2 separate regions of the Homo sapiens genome follow, and region 2 is linked to region 1. The links come from fine-mapping of genetic effects on gene expression. Tissue or cell type: blood mononuclear cells. Region 1 holds a variant in brackets; the other region holds the start of a gene. All regions are shown on one strand. Distances are between the middles of the regions. Region 1 has its middle 36 kb from the start of SH2D6. Region 2 holds the start of CAPG (capping actin protein, gelsolin like).

Region 1 (10,733 bases):
TGAGTTCTTAAATATCTCACCACAACTTGTCTATGGAGATCTCAAGAAGAGGGTCAAGGACTCTTCTTCTTGGGTCGTCTCTTATGAGCTGGATTTCGAGCTGGGCCCTAGAACAGCCCCTCAGCAGTGGCTGAGGATGCTGGCTGAATGCAGTGAGAGAGGGAAGGGGTCTGCTGTTCTTCCAAGGGCACCCCGAGGCCCTGCGGTTTCTCCCAGGACACACACACACATCCCTGGCCACCAGACCCACTGGCCCACGGGCCCTGTGCCTCATGAGTTCTTTTTCGTGCAGTTGGCTCTGTTAATGCCCCTGCTCAGAAGACCAAGGCCGTGGGTTGGCTCCCTGGGGGTGAGGCCTCCTGTGGTGAGACATTCTGTTCCTTGGCCATGAACTGAACAGAGTGTTGCACATTACAACAGGATGACAAAAAGAGACTGTCCCTGCGTGACATGGAAAATGCACAGTTCTCTAGCTGAAAGGGTGACTCCTCCTGCGATCCCCTCCTCCTTCCAGTTCCTTCTCACCCCACCTCTATGATCCGTGGGGATTTTCTGAGATGAGCCCTCATCTATTATATCTTCACATTCTGTCTTTGACGTAAAAGCTAACTTTAGTAAAGCAGGGCTTGGCTGGGCACAGTGGCTCACGCCTGTGATCCCAGCACTTTGGGCGGCCAAGGAAGGTAGATTACCTGAGGTCAGGAGTTCGAGACCAGCCTGGCCAACATGGTGAAACCCCATCTCTAATAAAAATACAAAAAAAAAATAAAAAAAATTAGCCAGGCATGGTGGTACATGCCTGTAATCCCAGCTACTTGGGAGGCTGAAGCAGGAGAATTGCTTGAACCTGGGAGGCAGAGGTTGCAGTGAGCTGAGATCACACCACTGCACTCCAGCCTGAGCAACAGAGCCAGACTCCGTCACGATAAAAATAAAAATAAAAATAAATAAAATAAAGCAGGTATCTCTCTAAACATCACAGAGTGCCTAGAAGAATCAGGTTCTCAGGAAGCAGGATAATAAGAAGGCTTCAGAGGGTATGAGCTGTGGCTGATTAGTAATGCAACAGGGACAAGAGGAGACTTTTATTTATTTCAGAGGACAGAAAGTAGCTGCCACGGCTGTTTTGTGAAACCAGGCTCAGTTCTAGGGTGGATCTGAGGACACCACTGGGGTGAGAGACTCCGGGAAGGGACCCATGAACCAGAGGGGCTCTGACTTGAGAGGATCAGAAGCCCGTGCTGCTGGAGGGAGAAGAACAGGTCAAGTCATGGGGCTGGAATCAGAGAGGGGATTCCCAAGGATGGAGAAGGGTGAGGGGATGGCTAATCTATGGTGTGACAGGCCATGGGTCACAAAGAAGGGATCTGGAGGCTCCATTTGGTGTTTCTACCACCTGAAAATTTGTGTACTCACCAAAGAACTCATCTGTTCTAACACCTGGGACCCCTTCCTGCTTCCTCATTCTGCCCAAAGTGTCACTGTACTGAAGGGCCAGGGTCTCACCTGACACTCACCAGGCTCCCCAGAGACCAAAGCTCTACTGTGGCTGTCAGGCCCCACCTGCCTACCTGGAATTCCATCCATGGTCTCCTGCCAAGTGCTGCTCCCCACGGCACCCTCATTGCCTGTTCCCTCCCGATTTTCACTGCAGGTGGCTGTGTGAGGGGGAAGAAGAAGACTGCTGGATTACACTGGATGGATTGGCCACTAAAAATGGCAGCCTCTGTCAGGTACAGTGGCTCATGCCTGTAATCCCAGCACTTTGGGACACTGAGGCAGGAGGATCGCTTGAGCCCAAGAGTTTGAGACCAGCCTGAGCAACATAGATACCCCATCTCAACAAAAAAAATTTTTAAATATTAATGGCCGGAAGTGGTGGCTGACACCTGTAATGCCAGTGCTTTGGAAGGCCAAGGAAGGCAGATTGCTTGACCTCAGGAGTTCAAGACAGGCCTGGGAAACATAGCAAGACCCCATTTCATTAAAAAAAAAAAAAAGATAAAAGTAAATAAAAAAAAAATTAATCAGCTGTGCTGGTGTGAGCCTGTAATCCCAGCTACCCAGGAGGCTGAGGCAGAAGGATCACTTGAACCTGGAAAGTGGAGGCTGCAGTGAGTCGTGATCATGCCACTGCACTCCAGCCTGGGCAACAGAGTGAGATCCTGTCTCTCAAAAAAAAAAAAAAAAAGGGCAGCCTTTCTTTAATATATCCATAATGACACCAGGCCTCCAGAGTAACTGCTAACAAAGTGCTTGCAGAATCACCCACCTATAGCATGAATTCAGTCTATCAACAACACTAGAAACAGAAACACAAGGGTTCACATTTTATTTTTTTAGAGACAGGATCTTACTATGTAGCCCGGGCTGGCCTTGAGCTCCTGGGCTCGAGTGACCCTCCAGCCTAAGCCTCCCAAGTAGCTGGGATTACAGGTGTGCTCCACCATGCCTGGCTGGGATCATGTTTATTAAACACATCCTTACTTGGCCTCTGAGACACCACCCTTTCTTGGACCTTCTTTTATGTCACTGGCCCCTCCTCCCCCATGTATATTTCTGGTTTCTCTTCATTTTCCTGGTGTCAAAATACTGCACGGCCGCAGGAGTCAGTCCTTCTCTTCTCTGTCCTTGTTCACACTCCAGGTGACCTCATCCAGGCTCATGGCTTTAAGATCAATCTCTCTATGCTGACCTCTCCCAAATTTGTATCTCCAGCCCTGACCTGTCCCCTGAACTCTGGGTTTGAATATCCAACTGCCTAATCAACACCTTGACCTGGGTGTCTAATAGACACAGCTGGCACAATATCCAAAATTAAACTTTTATTTTTACCCTAGACCTGCTCCTTCTGCAGCCTTACCAAACTCAGTAAACGATACCTTCACCTTCTCCATGCTCAGACCAAAACCAGACAAAGGACTCTTCCTTGACCTGTTTCATTTACTCACGATCGACATTAATAACCAGCAAGGCTAGACGTGGTGGCTCCTGCCTGTAATCCCAGCACTTTGGAAGGCCGAGGCGGGAGGATCACTTGAGTACAGGAGTTCAAGGCCAGCTTGGCCAACATGGCAAAACCCCGTCTCTACAAAAAATACAAAAATTAGCCGGGCATGGTGGTGCTTGCATGTACACCCAGCTACTAGGGGGGCTGAGGTGGGAGGATCACCTGAGCCCAGGAGGTCGAGGCTGTAGTGAGCTAAGATTGCAACCACTGCACTCTAACCTGAGTGATAGAGCAAGACCCTGTCTCAAAAAAGAAAAAAAAAAAATCAGCAAACCCTGTTGGCTCTACCTTCAAAATATACCCACCACTGGCCCTGCTGCCACTAATCCTAGCCACTGAAGTCTTGACCACAGCCTACCAGGCCTTGTGTGATCTGGCCCACTGCCACCTCCCTGGCTCCATTTCCTGCCACTGACTTTTCCCTTGACCCCTGCCACACTGGCCTCAGACACTGCAAGCCCACTCTTGCCTTGAGTGTATTGCTGTCTTCTCAGCCTGGAATTCTCTCCCCCAAAACACTCACAAAGCTGGCTGTTCTATTTCCTTCTGGTCTCTGCTCAGATGTCACCCCTCAGTGAGGCCTCCCCACACTACTTTAAGACGAGGAAATCTTCCCACACTCCACATTCTAGATTCCTCCTCTGCATTTTTTTCATATCATATATGTGTGTATGTGTGTGTGTGTGTGCACATGAGTGCACATATATAAAAATAAAATATCACAAATTTCCGAATTTCCTGAATTGGGCGATGATCACTCTAGCTACTTCCCGCTGGATAGGGGCAAAGAAGTCTCACTCCGTCCCTCAGGCTGGAGTGCAGTGCTGCGACCTCGGCTCACTGCAACTTCCACCTCCCGGGTTCAAGCAATTCTCCTGCCTCAGCCTCCTGAGTACCTGGGATTACAGGCATCTGCCACAATGCCTGGCTAACTTTTGTATTTTTAGTAGAGATGGGGTTTTGCCATATTGACCAATCTGGTCTTGAAGTCCTGACCTCAAGTGATCCGCTCACCTTGGCCTCCCAAAGTTCTAAGATTACAGGTGTGAGCCACTGCACCTGGCCTTTTTTTTTTTTTTTTTTTTTTCCCTGAGACAGGGTCTTATGCTCTGTTGCTCAGGCTGGAGTGCAGTGGTGGGATCATGGCTCACTGCAGCCTAAATCTCCCAGGCTCAAACCATCCTCCATCCTCAGCATCCTGAGTAAATGGAACTACAGGTGTGTGCCACCATGCCTGGCTAAATTTTTAATTTTTTGTTGAGATTGGGGGGGGTCTCACTATATTGCCCAGACTGGTTTTAAATGCCTGGGCTCGAGTGATTCTTCTGCCTTAGCCTCCCAAAGTGCTGGGATTACAGGCACGAGTCACTATACTTCTTCTTGGCTATTTATTATGTCCCTCTCCTCTCTAAACTATAAAAACTCCATGAAGATGAAGAATTTGCCTGAATTATTTCCTGCTAGAGCCTAGCAGGTAGAACAGTGTCTGGTACATAGTTCCTGTTAAAAGAAAAGCTTCAGCTGAATTAAATGTAAAAGCTGAGCAAAGAATGATTCCCAAATCAGGCAGCCTCCTGAGCCAGAGTAGGCCCACAGACTGCAGTGTAGCCACATGGTGGAAGAAGATTTATGGACAGAAAAAGGAAAGAGACATACAGCAAACGGAAGCGAGTTACAGAAACAGCTGGATTGGTTGCAGTTTTGCGTTTGCCTTATTTGAACACAGTTTGAACAGTTGGCCACATTTGAATGGCCAAAACTCGGTGATTGGCCCAAGAGTAGATTACAGTCTGTTTACGCTTCCATTTAGGCTGTAGTTCATGATGTACAGAGAAACCTTTAGGCCAAACTTAAAATATATAAGGAGGCCAGGCGCGGTGGCTCATGCTTGTAATCTCAGCACTTTGGGAGGCCGAGGCAAGTGGATCACCTGAGGTCAGGAGTTAAAGACCAGCCTGGCCAACATGGTGAAACCGCATCTCTACTGAAAATACAAAATTTAGCCGGGTGTGGTGGTGTGCACCTGTAATCCCAGCTACTTGGGAGGCTGAGGCAGGAGAATTACTTGAACCCGGGAGGCAGAGGTTACAGTGAACCAAGATCACGCCATTGCACTCCAGCCTGGGCAACAGAATGAGACTCTGTCTCAAATAAATAAATAAATAAATAAATAAATAAATAAATAAATAAATAAGAAAAAATGTAAGGAGGCAGCTTTAGATTAAACTTGATTTAACATTTCCTAGATACTAAAACTGTTGAATGGATGAGGCTTAAAGAGGCTAGATTAGTTTCCTAAGGCCACATAATTTAGTAAATGTTGAAACTCAGTGTTAACTAATTTTCCCAAGGTCACAGATTAAGGAGCAAAGGCAAAGCTGGGGTTCAAGCCCAGGTCTGAATTAAACATGGCATGAAGCCACAGAGCTTTCCACCTCCCCGTCCCCGTCCACCCAAGGCCAACACTAGTCAATGGCTCCCCTCCCAGATGTTCTCAACAGTCACCTTCCTGTCCCGCACCCTGCCCTTCAGCCTCTCCTTAGCGGCAATTCATTCTTCGGAAAGGTTTATGTTCATCCTATAATTATAACATAATACATGTTCAGCCTAGAAAACAAGAAAGAATGTTTAGAAAGCAGGAAGGAGGCCAGGCGTGGTGGCTCATGCCTGTAATCCCAGCACTTTAGGAGGCTGAGGTGGGCGGATCATGAAGTCAGGAGTTCAAGACCACCCTGGCCAATACGGCGAAACCCCGTCTCTAATAAAAATACAAAAATTAGCCGGGAGTGGTGGCGCACGCCTGCAGTCCCAGCTACTCGGGAGGCTAAGGCAGGAGAATTGCTCGAACCCAGGAGGCAGAGATTGCAGTGAACCAAGATCGTGCGACTGCACTCCACCCTGGGCAACAGAG[C/T]GAGATTCCGTCTCAAAAAAAAAAAAAAAAAAAAATTAGCCAGGCATGGTAGTGGATGCCTGTGGTCCCAGCTACATGGAATGCTGAAGCAGGAGGATCACTTGACCCCAGGAAGTCGAGGCTGCAGTGAGCCATGTTCATGCCACTGCACTCCCGCCTGGATGACAGAGCAAGACTCAGTTTCAAAAAAAAAAAAAAAATTATAACCTGGCCACTAGTCACAAATCCTGGGTTCTAATCTTCTAATCCCAACAGGAAGGAAGTAAAGGCATGTATATGGGCATAGAAAGACAGGCAGGCTTTGGCCAGAGGAAACAAAGAGGGTTGGTCTCTCCCAGTGTGTCTGGAGTTGGTTCCTTCTGATGGGTTCGTGGTCTCGCTGATTTCAATAATGAAGCCGTGGACCTTCACTGTGAGTGTTACAGCTCTTAAAGGTGGCACGGACCCAAAGAATGAGCAGCAGCAAGATTTATTGTGAAGAGCAAAAGAACAAAGCTTCCACAGCGTGGAAGGGGACCTGAGCGGGTTGCCGCTCCAGGCTGGGGGTGACCAGCTTTTATTCCCTTACTTGTCCCTGCCCATGTCCTGCTGATTGGTCCATTTTACAAACCTCTAGCTAGCCACAGAGTGCTGACTGGTGTGTTTTTACAGAGCACTGATTAGTGCATTTTACAAACCTCTAGCTAGCCACAGAGTGCTGATTGGTGCGTTTTACAAACCTAGCTACAGAGTGCTGACTGGTGCATTTTACAATCCTCTTATAAGACAGAAGAGTTCTCCAAGCCCCCACTCAACCCAGGAAGTCCAGCTGGCTTCACCTCTCACCAGCAGGGGACAGACAAGCAGGAAGGGACAAGGAGATCAAAGGGCAGGAGTGGAGGCAGGGTGGGGAGGAGGGGGAAATGGGACCCTGGGAGCAGTCACAGGTAAGATAAGGTAGGAGGAAGGTGTAGAGAGCTATGAACAATAGCTCAGGCTGAGGAATTTGGACCCAACAAAGGAAGCCTGAGAGTGGGCTGGAGACACTGCAGGTGGGGAGGCTGCTTAGGGATGATGAAGGGTTTTTAGCAGAGATAACTCAAAGAACAATGCAGTGTGGAGGTTACAGGACCAGGAGGAGTCTGAGATCACTCCCAAGGTGAGTGGCCAGTGACTGGGTGAAAAGTGGTGGCTCTTTGGAGGCTCAGGAAGAGGGAAAGGACAGGCTGGGCTCAATTCTGGTTGTTGAGAATTGGCTGGGAGCAGGTCTATGAGCTATGATGTCCCAGAGGAGACTGTCAAGATTATCAAGACAGATGTTTCCATGAGGAGACGCCGGTGAGGGAAACAGGGTGGAGGAAGAGGCACAGGACAGCTCTCCAGCGTAGACTTTCCACTGACCCCAGATCAAGCCTGCACTCCCCAGCCAGGTGTGCAGGGCCCTCCACATCCCAGGCCTACTCACCTCCTCCTGCCTTCTCTCTCACTCAGGAAGACCCTCCACTCCCAGGGGACTGTGCCTCCTCCAGCACTAACTCTTCAGCCACTCCATTTTGCTTGCCTCCATGGGCTGGGCTGCCATCTTCCTTGATGGTCTCCTGCTTCCCAGTCCTCAGCTGCATCATCAGTCCTGGAGCACCTGACGGGTGCTGGAGCACACAGCATAATCCCCACAAACAACCCTTGACTTGACTTCCCTTTTCCACTCTCCTCTCACCGCCCAGTCCCCAGCTCTGTCAGCCTCACTCCCCGCTGATGGCCAAGCTTGTCTCAGAGTTGCAGGTAACCTTGGCATTTGTGCCAAACGTTGCTGACCAGGGGCAGACTTAGCTGTGTAAGGCTGGTCCAGACTCCTCCAGCAGTCACATAGATCAGCTTTAATGTGCCCACGAATCCCTGGGCTTCTTGTTTAAATGCACATTCCAGTGGGTGAGCCTGGGATAAGCGGGCGATCTGTGTTTCTAACAAGCTCCCAGGTGATACTGATGACCACACTTTGAGTAACGAGGATATGGAGGACTTTTGGATCCAGTTTTCTCATTCACCAAAGAGGGCTCTGACCACTTCACTGGGTTACCATGGAATCAAATGAGTTAGAGTTTGTGAAAAGAAAACAAAAACCAAAGGTGCCAGGCAAATGTCAGATTCACCATCTATCCCACGTCTTGCTGCCAGGATGAAGATGATAAAATATGCAAAAGGCCTTGATTGCTTAGCAGATGCCAAACAAATGTTAGGTGCTCCTCCCCCAGAGCCTTCAAGGTTGAACTCAGCCGCTGGGTGGGCTCTCGGCTCATGACTTCATTCCTCTGCTCACTCCACTTACTGGATCTGCTCTCACTCTAGCTTGGCCTTGATCACATCTCCCCATCCCCTCCCGTCAGCCCCATAACACCACTTTTTTTTTTTTTTTTTTTTTTTTGAGACAGGGCCTTGTTCAGTTGCCCAGGCTGGAGCGTGGTAGTATGATCATGGCTCACTGCAGCCTCAAATTCCCACCTCAGCCTCCCGAATGTCTGGGACTACAGGTGCAAGCCACCACACCTGGCTAATTATTTGTGTAATAGAAATGGGGTCTCAGCCAGGCATGGTGGCTCACACCTGGAGTTCGAGACCAGCCTGACCATGATGGTGAAACCCTGTCTCTACTAAATACAAAAAATTAGTCCAGCGTGGTGGCACATGCCTGTAATGCCAGCTACTCTGGAGATTGAGGCAGGAGAATCGCTTGAACCTGGGAGGCGGAGGTTGCAGTGAGCCGAGATCACACCACTGCACTCCCGCCTGGGCAACAGTGAGAGATACTCTGTCTCAAAAACAAATTTAAAAAATTTTTTTAAAATAAATAAATAAAAGAAATGGGGTCTCAATCTGTTGCTCAGGCTGGTCTTGAGCTCCTTGGCTCAAGTGATTCTCCTGCCTCGGCTTCCCAAAGTGCTAGGATTACAGGCATGAGTCAATGCACCCGGCCCACAGACTGCTTTTGATGTTTGTAACAGAGTTCCATGCTGATGCCAGCCTTTTCTGGGTGGGGTTTTATTCTGCTTGATTTGTGTGTCAGCTTGACAGCCACAGCCATCTCACTGCCAGATACAATAGGATAAATGTCACAGTGATTACCAGCAGCGGATGATTAAAATGGTGACTAATTGGGTACCTGTGCCAAGGGAGAGGTAGGAGTTGAAAATAATTCCTAGGTTTCAAGCCTGGGAGGTGCAAGAATGATGAGGTCAATTTGGAGCATTGAAGCTTGGGGCCAACGTGCATGAGACAACACAGTGGAAGAGTTCCTCAGGCGGGTGGAAGTGTGGGACTGAAGGTGAGGGAGAGGTCGGCAGGGGTTTACAGATACCCATAGAGATGTAATCGCTGAATCTGCGTAGAGAGAAAAGAGCAGAAGACTGAGGATTAGACATTTGGAAACGTCTCTGTTTATTCATGTAGCCAAAATAAATTCCAAGAGAGAGTCATTTTGACCAGGTTCTCAAGCAGGGCATGTTTCTTCCCAGGCCCCAAATGGCTCCCATCCTGGCCCTAGCATGGAGGGGTATAGGGCTGCAGGCAGAAGGGCAGTGGGGTCTGGGTCTCACTTTCACAACAGGTCTCAAATTTAGACTCGTGATGTTATTTCTAAATAGGATTATATCATACCTACAGTCACAGACAGAGAGGCCCTGTCGGCTTCCTCGTCCCATCCAGGTGCAGTGAGCATCAGGTTTCCTGTGGACATCAACTCCCACCCAGGAGCTGGGTAGGCTCCCTTTTCTAGGGATTGTCCTTCTCCATCTCTGTGACTGTGCAAGCCACTGTGTGTGTGGAACATGTCTCCACTGTCCCTGCCACACTGATGGTCCCTCTTGGGACAGGGACCTATTCCCACACCAGTCATGGTGCTGTACTCCTCTTGCCAAAATTAACTGGTAGAAGGGAACACCTGACTCAAACTGGACCAACGTGTCACTTAAAGGGGGTCAATGTGTCACTCTCCAGGGGTTTTGTTGCCCCGTTTGAGAGTCAAATGTATTTCTCTACGTAAAAATTAACATAACAACAACAAAAAGGTGGCAGAAATCAATGAATATTTCCCCCTCTGGAATCCACTAACATGCTGGTGGAGGAATTTGTAAATAGACATAAATGAATAAGAACAAAGGGAACCTGTGAGGAGACATAGCAACATGACTTTGGAAGCTAGAAATCAGTGATTACTGAGAAGATCTGAGAATGTTGAATACTGTCAGCTGCAGGAAAAAACAAGTGGTAACCAAGTGTTAACCCATAGAATTCCCTAAAAGGCTCCAGGTACCTCCTGAAGGAAGGTTAAAGATGAGCCTAAAAATGAAGACTCATTAAACGTCTGTTTTAGAAACAGGGCCGGGTGCGGTGGCTCATGCCTGTAATCCCACCACTTTGGGAGGCCAAGGCGGGTGAGTCACCTGAGGTCAGAAGTTCGAGACCAGCCTGGCCAACATGGTGAAACCCAGTCACTACTAAAAGTACAAGAATTAGCTGGACGTGGTGGCGTGCACCTGTAATCCCAGCTACTCAGGAGGCTGAGGCAGGAGAATTGCTTGAACCCAGGAGGCAAATGTTGCAGTGAGCCAAGATCGTGCCACTGCACTCCAGCCTGGGCGACAGAGTGAGACTCTGTCAAAAACAAAAAACAAAAAAAAACGAAGAAGAAGAAGAAGCAGTTAAACCCCAATCCCTCCCCATTGCCCTCCAGTGAGTGACTGTCCCTCCTCCAACCCAGCAAAAGACACTAGCGGCTTCTACTAGGAAAGGATAAAACTGAGGTTTTCTGTACTAGGAGTCATCAGTTACAGGTGAGGG
Region 2 (10,733 bases), 45 kb before region 1:
AAAATTTGCTGGGTGTGGTGGCACGTGCCTATAGTCCCAGCTACTCAGGAGGCTGAGGCGGGAAAATTGCTTGAACCCAAGAGGCAGAGGCTGCAGTGAGCTAAGCCCATGCCATTGTACTCCAGCCTGGGTGACAGAGTGAGACTCCATCTCAAAAAAAAAAAAAAAAAAAAAAAATTAACAAAATTTTAGCAAATGAAATCAAATAATATATAAAAAATAAACCATGATGACCAAATGAGGTTTATCCCAGGAATGCAAGGTTGGTTTAATATCTGAAAATCAGGGTGATGATAGCTAATAATAATGCAGTGTATATTTCAAGATAGCCAGAAGAGAGGATTTGAATGTTATCATCACAAAGAAATGATAAATGTTTAAAGTGATGGATATGCTAATTACCTTGATTTGATCATTATACAATATATACACATACATTGCATATGTACAATGAAACATCACACTGCTCCTGCTAAGTATGTGCAATTATTATCTGTCAATTATAAATTTAAAATAAATAAATAAAGCCGCTCACAACGCAAAAAAAAAAAAAACAGGCCAAAATTTGAAAATCAATGCTATACACCCTATTAACAAACATGTATGTGTAATCACCTCAATAGATGCAGAAACAGCATTTAGCAAAATTCTACATTCATTCCTAGTTTAAAATTTTTTCAAGCCTGGGCAATATAAGGAGACCACAACCCTACAAAAATTTTAAAAATCAGCCAAGGCCAGGTGCAGTGGCTCACACCTGTAATTCCAGCACTTTGGGAGGCCGAGGTGGGTGGATCACGAGGTCAGGAGTTCGAGACCAGCCTGGCCAACATGGTGAAACCCTGTCTCTACTAAAATACAAAAATTAGCTGGGCATGGTGGCATGCGTCTGTAATCCCAGCTACTTGGGAGGCTGAGGCAGGAGAATTGCTTGAACCCAGGAGGCAGAGGTTGCAGTGAGCTGAGATTGTGCCACTGCACTCCAGCCTGGGTGACAGAGCAAGACTCTGTCTCAAAAAAATAAAATAAAATAAAATAAATAAAAATCAGCCAAATGTGGTAGTGCAAGCCTGTAATTCCAGATCCCAGCTACTCAGGAGGCTGAGGAGTGAGTATCGCTTGAGCCCAGGAGATAGAGGCTGCAGTAAGCCAAGATCATGCCACTGAACTGCAACCTGGATGACAGAGTAAAACCCCCTCTCAAAAAAAAAAAAAAAATTTTTTTTTTACCCACAAACTAGGAATAGAAAGAAATTTCCTTAACCTGTTAAAAAGGCATCTATTAAAATACAACAAACAAACAAAAACCCTTCACCTAACATTATATTTAATGGCTGCTCTAATTCTAAACTCCCTCCCTGAGAAATTTCACCCACTCCCAGGCATCAGCTATCAATTCTGTATGCCCAGCTTCCCTCAAATGCCAGAATGATGAACACTTTTTCTGGACAAAAGTCATTCAAGGGAAAAAATGCTAAACGCAAGTATTTTTTAAAAAGATATTATCTTTTTAAAAAATTCAGAAAATGCAACAGCTACGGCTCCACTCACTGTCGCTTTCATAGGTTCCCATCACTAGAGGATTTCTTTTTTTGGCTCAAAATGCAGAGATCACAGAGCCAGCATGCACTTCGTACATAATACAATTCATGCTGTGCATCCATTTGGACAGAGTTTGTGTAAGATGAGCCCCAGTGGCACAGGGTAAGGGCTTGGGGAATTGGAGGGTAAAAATGCAAGCTGGCACCATTAGGAGATTCTTGGGGGCTGGGGCAGCAGGATCAGGAAGTGCAATATTTCGCAGGGGCCAGGGAAGTCAGGGGTAGGGGGAAGGCAGATGACAGAGCAGAAGGTATTAAGTCTGAGTAGGAAACAAAGAGGGACAGGTCAAGGGCAGTGATAATGGATGTGAAATGCTGTGTGAATTATGACTTTCCTTTTCCTTTCCCAACCTACAAAATAGTGGAAGGCATATTTTGGCACCACGATTCCGGAAGAGGACATGCAGAGAGCAGAGGTTTGCGGAGGGAAACTTTAACGTTTCTCCATCCCACAGAGGATCACATGCTGTGCCCACATCCCCTGCAACAGGCAGCCCAGCCTGTGACTCAGGCCTGAGCTGGTGAAGTGGCTGCCCCAAGCTCAAGCCATCAGGGAGCGCTCAAGAATGAGACACGGAGTGCGCCAATTGTCACCTTTACTATTTTTCATTCTGTGTTTAACTCAAAATCAGGCAGCCTACATGCCAGAGAGCCACATCAGGGTTTGGATGAAAGGGGTTTGGCAGGCCGGGTGCGGTGGCTCACGCCTGTAATCCTAGCACTTTGGGAGGCCGTGGTGAGCAGTTCACTTGAGGTCAGGAGTTCGAAACCAGCCTGGCCAACATGGTGAAACCCCGTCTCTACTAAAAGCACAAAAATTATCCGGAAATCACTTGAACCTGGGAGGCGGAGGTTGCAGTGAGCCAAGATCCATGCCACTGCACTCCAGCCTGGGCAATGGAGTGAGACTCGGTTTCAAAAAAAAAAAAAGAAAAGAAAGGAGTTTGGCTGCTCATTAGAATGACCTTGGGACCTTATTAAAATGTCGGTACTGACAAAGATTCTTTGCTTGGCCAAACTTTAACTAGGCTTCTGAACCACCCCGTAGGCCCATCTGTGTGCTTGTAAAATCCGGTTTTAGCAAAAGAACCCTGCTAAGGCCATTTACCTAGAACCCCCTACCCTTGATATCTGGTCGATCTGATAATCGTGGATATCTGATTGGGTTCCTCAACACCCTGCCCCCGCCGCCCCAGTGATGTCTGATCACTCTGGCCTGTATTCAGCAAGAATCCTGTTAGGGGCCGGGCACAGTGGCTCATGCCTGTAATCCCAGCACTTTGGGAGGCCAAGGCGGGCAGATCACCTGAGGTCGGGAGTTCGAGACCAGCCTGACCAACATGGAGAAACCCCATCTCTACTAAAAATACAAAATTAGCTGGGCTTCGTGGCTCATGCCTGTAATCCCAGCTATTCGGGAGGCTGAGGCAGGAGAATCACTTGAACCCGGAAGGCAGAGGTTGCAGTGAGCTGAGATCATGCCATTGCACTCCAACCTGGGCAACAAGAGCGAAACTCCGTCTCAAAAAAAAAAAGGAATCCTGTTAGCTCAGTCTAGCCAGAATCTCTTTACCCTTGATGTTTCCTCTTAGTAATTTTCTTTTTTTTTTTTTTGAGACAGAGTTTCACTCTGCTGCCCAGGCTGGAGCGCAGTGGCACAGTCTCAGCTCATTGCAACCTCTGCCTCCTGAGTTGAAGCAATTCTCCTGCCTCAGCCTCCTGTGTAGTGGGATTAGAGGCGTGCACCACCACATCTGGCTAATTTTTTGTACTTTTAGTAGAGGTGAGGTTTCACCATGTCAGTCAGGCTGGTCTTGAACTCCTGACCTCCAGTGATTGCCCACCTTGGCTTCCCAAAGTGCTAGGATTACAGGCGTGAGGCACTGCGCCTGGGCCATATTTTTTTTCTTTAACAGTGCCCAAGCCCCTGGTCTGGGGATTCTGATTCCACAGGTCTGGAATGGGGCTTGATCACCCATATTTTGAACATATGTTCAAAGTGATGGTAGTAGTGCCAGTGAATTCTGTCCAGAACAGTGTCAAATGCTCACCTGCACATTAGAATCATTTGGGGGCTTTTGAAAAACCCCAGTGCCAGCCAGGCATGGTGGCTCATGCCTGTAATCCCAGCACACTGGGAGACTGAGGTAGGTGGAATGCTTGAGCTTAGGAGTTCAAGACCAGCCTGGGCAACATGGTGAAATCCTGTCTCTACAAAATATACAAAAATTAGCTGGGCGTGGTGGCGCACACCTGTCATCCTAGCTACTTGGGAGGCTGCAGCACAAGAATTGCTTGAACCTGGGAGGTGGAGGTTGCAGTAAGCCGAGATCACACCACTGCACTCCAGCCTGGGTGACAGAGTGAGACTCTGTCTCAAAAAAAAAAAAAAAAAAAAGTAATTTACAGAAAAATAAGAAAGAAAAACCCCAGTGACTAGCTTCCATATTGGACTCATTAAAACCAGACTCTCTAGGTGGAGCCTGGATGTCAGTGTTTGAGAAGCTCCAGATGACTCTAATGCTTGGTCAGGGTTGAAACTCCTGCTGCCTCATTAGATCTCTGTCCCGAGACCTTTTGTTCCAGTCTCTCCTGGGGAAGGGTCCACCCTGACCTCTGGCCTTTCATTCTTTCCCCTATCCCAGCCCTCTGTCCAAGCCCACAGCTCCTTGAGCTTCCTCAGTGTCCATGTTCACCCTTACATCCATTAAAGCCCCCTCATCCTAGGCTGGGCACAGTGGCTCATGCCTGTAATCCCAGAACTTTGGAAGGCTGAGGCGGGTGGATCACTTGAGATTAGGAGTTCAAGACCAGCCTGGCCAACATGGTGAAACTCCATCTCTGCTAAAAATACAAAATTAGCCAGGCATGGTGGTGCGTGCCTGTAGTCCCAGCTACTTAGGAGGCTGAGGCAGGAGAATTGCTGGAACCCGGGAGGCAGAGGTTGCAGTGAGCCGAGATGGCACTACTGCACTCTAGCCTGGGCAACAGAGGAAGAATCTGTCACACACACACACACACACACACACACACACACACACACACAAGCCCCCTTATCCTTCCAGGCCCGTATCAAGCCCCAGCTGTCCAAGGAAACTTCCAGGACATTAAGTGGCCTCCGCCTTCTCTGGGAGTTCTCCCAGCCCTCTCCCCTGGGAGCACATACTTTAGCCTGTTTTATAGCATAAACTGGCTGCTTCACATCTCAACTGGAGCAAGGACACACCTGATGCCTCTGTTCCTCAAGCAGCCCAGCAAAGAGTCTATTCCATTCCACTCAACGTCTGTGCTGGGGGCTTGGCACTGGGGGTGACATGCACAGAGACAAAGAATAGCCCATGTTTTATGGTTTAGCTGCAGGGTGCAGTGAACAAGGGAGCCACCATACCCAGTGAAACCGCAGACGAACTTCCTCTAAGTGGGGAATGTCACAGAATCACAGATGTCAGCATTAGAAAGTGCTAAAGTTGAAGAGGGGAGCTGGGGCCGGGGGGGAGGAATAAAACAAAAAAAAGAAAGCGCTAAAGTTCTTATCTAGTCCTGCTCTGCCTGCACCGCCCTACACATACCCATACACGCATAGTGCAGAAATCTCTTCTATAGCATCCCTTACCATCCTCTTCTTGAAGGCTTCCAGTGATGGGAAACTCACCACCTTACCAAACAGCCTCTTCTACACCTCTTAAAGCCTTTACTTTTCCCCACTCTGCCATAGTGTGGTGAGTTATGGACCCGCCTACCTCCACTACTACACTGTAGGGTCCTTTAGGGCAGGAAGTGTATTTTGCCTCTGGATCTAGCTGGAACCTCATGCAGGTGCTCAAAGAATGCATTTGATTAACTGGACCTGCTGGGCTCTGATTATTAGACTGGGGTGGCACCTAAGGGATAGCCCAGGATTTCAAAAGGCTGGGACAGGCTGGAGCAGCCCCAGGAGGCAGAGAGCAGGGGCTAGGGGTCCCAGACTGCCATGGGGCTGGGGGAGGGGAGGACGCAAGTCCTGCTGGCTGTCCCATGGTCCTGACTTAGGCTGTCTTTGAGGACACACTGGGGGACCTCGGAGAGGAGGTCACCGTTACACACACCTTTAAGGAAAGACTTGACAGCCATCAGAGGGACAAAAATCCTGCCGGGGTCCAGTGGTACCTTTGCCTTCCTCAGACCCTGATTCCACTGACCCCCAATAGGTCTCTTCCCTTCACAGTCCCTGCTTGCCCCTAGGTGTGAAATGAAACAGCACCTCCACTTCTCCTGGTGGAGGTAGGTGCCCACCCTCGAAACCAAACTGAATCTCCCAGCCTGGGACATGGCATTCTCAGAATCTAGGTCCAGAGGCCTCATTTGGGGATTCCAAATGGTTTTTCCCCTGATACCAAATAGGTCTCCTACCCTTCCCCAGGGTCAACCACTTCCTCCCTCCCCACCTCCTACCTCAGACAGTCCACCTAGACCCTCAGCCAAGGTCTTCCAGAGTTTGCAAAATAATCAAATGTGCCACTTGCATTTGAATTCAAATGGCTAGGACTGCCCTGCCCCCTCCCCAAGCCACTCCCACCCAAATAGCATCACACCACAGTCCTGTCTTGGGGACAGGCAGCTTCTAATCTGATTTCACCTCCAGTCTGGCTGAGGGCCTTCAGGAGCAGTGTGGTGGCCTCCGTCAGGAGGTCTGGCACAGCTGGGACAAGCCCTGACCCAAGAGTTCCTCCATGTGCAGCATGGGCACAGCCCACCCATCCTCCCGGGCAGCTTCACAGCTGCCATCAGATCAGGTGCCTGGAGCCTGGCATAAGGCTGGCAGGACAGCAGGCTGGGGGAACTCCACCCTGGCACAATGTGGTATCCAGAAATGTGGGTCTCTGTTCCCAGGCCACCACAGCCAGCCCTCGCCTGCCCACCCAGGAGGGTACCAGCCAGCCGCGCTGGCAGCCACCCTGCCACCTTCACCTTTCAACACTCCTACTTTCCTTTCTTCCTCCTACCTCTGCTTCGTAGGTTCGTCTTCCTTCCAGCCTGCCCCACCCGGCTTCTCACTTCCCTCTTACTTCTCTGGCTGCCCCAACCACCAGCCCCACCCACCAGCCCCACCCCTGGGCTCCTTCCCCAGCCGGTGTGGAGGCGATGTCCCCCGACAGGGAGGGGCAGGCAGTGCTGGGAGGCCAGCAGGCCTGAAGCAGAAGAGCAGTCACTGGGGTGGGCAGTGGGTATGCCAGGCCGTCTCCTCAGAGGGGCACACAGGGAGGCTGGAGGTCCACACAGCCCCACCACAGTGGCCTCAGCCCGCTGCAGGTCACAGCCAAGGCAAATCAGGGAGGGCATCTCTGAGTCTGAGACCAGCAAGGAAAGCCATGTTCTCCATTCAGGGCCTGGGGCAGGCGCGGCACAGCCCCCACCGCTGCTGGGTTAGTCACATTTTCTGGGCAGGGTCACTGGCTTCACATTACTTTTTCCTCCTCCCTCAGTTTGTCTTTCTCCTTGCCCTGAATGCAAGTATTTGATTTTTTTTAAGATCAGTTTTTTGGTTTTTTTTGTTTTTTTTTTTTTCCTGAGACAGGGTTCACTGTCACGCAAGCTGGAGTGCCGTGGCATTATCACCGCTAACCGCAGCCTTGAACTCCTGGGCTCAAGCGATCCTCCTGCCTCAGCCTCCTGAGCAGCTGACACCACAGGCCTGCACCAACATGCCCGACTAATTTTTTTATTTTTTCTGGAGACAGAGTCTTGCTACTCAGGCTGGTCTAGAACTCCTGAACTGAAGCAATCCTCCCACTTTGGCCTCCCAAAGTGCTGGGATTACAGGCGTGGGCTACTGCACCTGGCTAAGCTCAGTTCTCAGGGAATGGCTGAGGCCATAAAACATTCTTCACCATCTTCCGCATGCCATGCTGATGCCTCTCAGGTCTCTACCCTTTGGTCTGCTTCTCATTCACCAGATGTTTATCATCATGACTTCTGGGCCCTGGGCCCTCTGAGAGACAGCCCATCCTGGGTTGACCCAGGGCAACTATCCTGCCTACATCACAGTCACTAGACCCTAGAGCTTGTCTCCTCCAACTCGCTGGCTTTCTGGAGGACACCGAGGTCCTGAGAGCACAAGAGACTGCCCACAAACACACAGGGAGTGGAAGCCCCTGCAAGGGAGGCTCCCATTCCCTTCTGAATCCCTGGGGGAAGGATGAGCGGACTCAGTATGAGGCTCCAGGAGAAAGTGAGCACCCAGTTATGCAGCCACACAAGCGTAGTTCCTCTGCCCAGAACCTAGCCGGCCTGTCCTGGAAAGGTATTGGTCAGCAGGCTGGCTTGAGACAAGGCTCCAGGTTCAGGGTCAAGGCCTGGGGACCCTGGAGCAAAATCTGGAACAAATCTTCCTAATTAGCAGACCTTCAAACAAAACCTCATTATTTGACTGCGTGGGAAAAGTCTGGAGAAAATACAGTACTGGATAGGCTGGGCATGGTGGCTGTCTCCGGTAATCCCAGCACTTTGGGAGACTGAGGCAGGCAGATTACCTGAGGTCAGGAGTTCAAGACCAGCCTGGCCAACATGGTGAAACCCTGTCTCTACTAAAAATACAAAAATTAGCCGGGCATGGTCATGGGTGCCTGTAATCCTAGCTACTGGAGCGACTGAGGCAGAAGAATCACTTGAACCCAGGAGGCGGAGGCTGCAGAGAGCCGAGATGGCGCCACTGCACTCCAGCCTGGGAGACAAAGCAAGACTCCATCTCAAAAAAAAAAAAAGCAATACTGGATGAATGTTTCTCATTGAAACGAAATTGATAAAATTTCACTAGAGCAAGACGGGAAGTTAAATCTTCTCCCCAAAGAACATGGCCTGTAGCTAGCATCCAAGTGTCTCCATGGCCAAACTGCCAGGCTTAAAAATAGGGTAATATGGGCCGGGCGCGGTGGCTCACGCCTGTAATCCCAGCACTTTGGGAGGCCAAGGCGGGTGGATCATGAGGTCAGGAGTTCGAGACCAGCCTGGCCAGCATGGTTAAACCGCCATCTCTACTAAAGACACAAAAAATTAGCCGGGGGTGGTGGCGCATGCCTGTAATCTCAGCTATTCAGGAGGCTGAGGCAGGAGAATCGCTTGAACCCGGGAGGCAGAGGTTGCAGTGAGCCGAGATTGCGCCATTGCACTCCAGCCTGGGTGACTGGGCAAGACTCAGTCTCAAAAAATAATAATAATAACAATAATAATAGGGTAGTTTGGTGGAGGGTGGGAGGAGGGAGAGATTCAGGAAAATAACTAATGGGTACTAGGCTTAATACCGGGGAGACAAAATAATCTGTACAACAAAGCCCCATGACACGAGTTTACCTATATAACAAACATGCACATGTACCCCTGAACTTAAAAGTTTAAAAAAGAAAAAAAAGGATAGTCTGGGTGAGAATCCCAGTAGGGCCTAGTCCCCACAAAACCACAGGCTGGGCGGTTAACCTGGTAGAGTGATAAGAGCTAGACAATTTGGCTCCTTACTAGCTGTGCAAGTGACTTAACCTCCTGGAGCCTCCCTGTGCCCCAATCTGTAACACGTGCATACAGTTAAATGTGAAGATGAAATGAGATCCTATGATTAATGAGCAAATAATACATGCTCGATAAACCCAGACTTCTTTCTCTTCCCTTTAGTTTGCAATGTGCCATCAGCACCTGAGGTAGAAATGTGCCTGGCCACTCCCCTAGCTCCCGGTTTCTCCACAGGAGGAAAGAAAGTTAAACCACAGAGCACTCTCCTATTTCCATCCCCAGCCCCAGCGCTGGAAAGCTTCATAGATTTTGGTCACAACAGCGCATACCTTGGGTGGCTCTTAAGTTCTGGACTCTGTGACCCACGGAGGGAACAAGGATCAATGGGAATCACTGTTCCTCACACTCAGCTGTCTAGGCTAAAGCCTCTCCTATCACCACAGGAAAAAAGGGGAGAGGTTTACACATTAACAGCGAAACAACTGGCTGGGCGCAGTGGCTCACGCCTGTAATCCCAACACTCTGGGAGGCCGTGGCGGGCGGATCACCTGAGGTCAGAAGTTCGAGACCAGCCTGACCAACGTGGCGAAACCCCATCTCTACTAATAATACAAAAATTAGCTGGGCGTGGTGGCGGGCGCCTATAATCTCAGCTACTCGGGAGGCTAAGGCAGGAGAATCGCTTGAACCCGGGAGGCGGAGGTTGCGGTGAGCCGAGATCTCGCCACTGCACTCCAGCCTGGGCAATAAAAACAAAACTCCGTCTCAAAAAACAAACAACAACAACAGCGAAACAAAAGGGCCGGTCGCTCAGCCTAGGACTCTCGGGAGCGGCTAGGAACTCAATGCACATGCTAATGAGTTATCTGGTAACGACGCTCTAGAACTAGTTTTTTTACCAGACGCACAGTGTTCCTACCCTTGTGGTCTCCCCTGAGCACTACTGCTTAGTTTGTCCCAAATGAAGTAAAATAAAGTATTTCTTTAGCACGGACCCACCCTCTCCCGCCTTTTCTTACAGGAAGCCAGGAGACGGCGCGCCCCTAAGAGAGGACCCCGGCTGTGGGAGAAGAGGAGGGAGCGGGGCGCCCCCGAACCGGCTAAGCCCGTTCGACCCCTACATGGGGAGCCCAGGTCCCCGGCGACCGGACCCCGAAGCGCACTACTTGCCTGCCAACGCCTTGCTCCGAGGCCCTGGGCGCTGTCTCAGCCGCCCCCCGCCCCCTGGAGGTGCGCGGCCAGGAGCCGCCCCCGGTGAGTCAGAGGGAGGGGCCCGGCCGGTCTGAGCTGGCGGGGAGCCCCTATGGGAGGCTGGGGCGCCCGAAAGGGTCCTAGAATTGGGCGTGGGAAGGAGGGTATAGGGGAAGCTAAGGACAAGCTTACTGTGCTGTAAACTTTGCGAGAGAATTGCAGTGTTCACTTCCATTCAATCGTTAGGCCCCCGGCCTCAATCACCCTGTGAACAGCTACTGTTCTGTGAGAGCCTACTATGTGCTTGGTGCGTCCTCACATCTACTATCATTATTCCTGCTGGAAACATGAAGTCTTTGGGAGGCTCAGAGAGGGTAACTAACTTGTCCAGAGTGTCACATTGCTAGTTCAGTAGCAGAACTAAGATTTTTTTTTTTTTTTTTGAGACAGGGTCTCACTCTG

Evidence for each region. PIP is the estimated chance that this variant, and not a neighbour inherited with it, causes the effect.
Region 2: it holds the start of CAPG, and the variant in region 1 is fine-mapped to the expression of CAPG in blood mononuclear cells (TOPMed, PIP above 0.99).

The regions. Positions count from the first base shown.
Region 1 is chr2:85,449,056-85,459,788 of GRCh38, forward strand. No RefSeq gene overlaps it. Among named protein-coding and RNA genes, the nearest start is that of SH2D6, 36 kb to the left of the region's middle. RefSeq lists enhancers at 5,989-6,978, 9,871-10,426. The variant C/T (reference allele first, on the strand shown) is at 5,922.
Region 2 is chr2:85,403,734-85,414,466 of GRCh38, forward strand. It overlaps CAPG (capping actin protein, gelsolin like), which reads right to left and starts at 6,633. Exons shown (of 10, transcript NM_001747.4): 1 at 6,584-6,633. It overlaps LOC105374841 (a long non-coding RNA gene), which reads left to right and starts at 9,978. Exons shown (of 3, transcript XR_940316.3): 1 at 9,978-10,334. RefSeq lists enhancers at 2,079-2,128, 9,737-10,238, 10,134-10,183 and silencers at 6,651-6,700, 6,811-6,860, 10,314-10,393.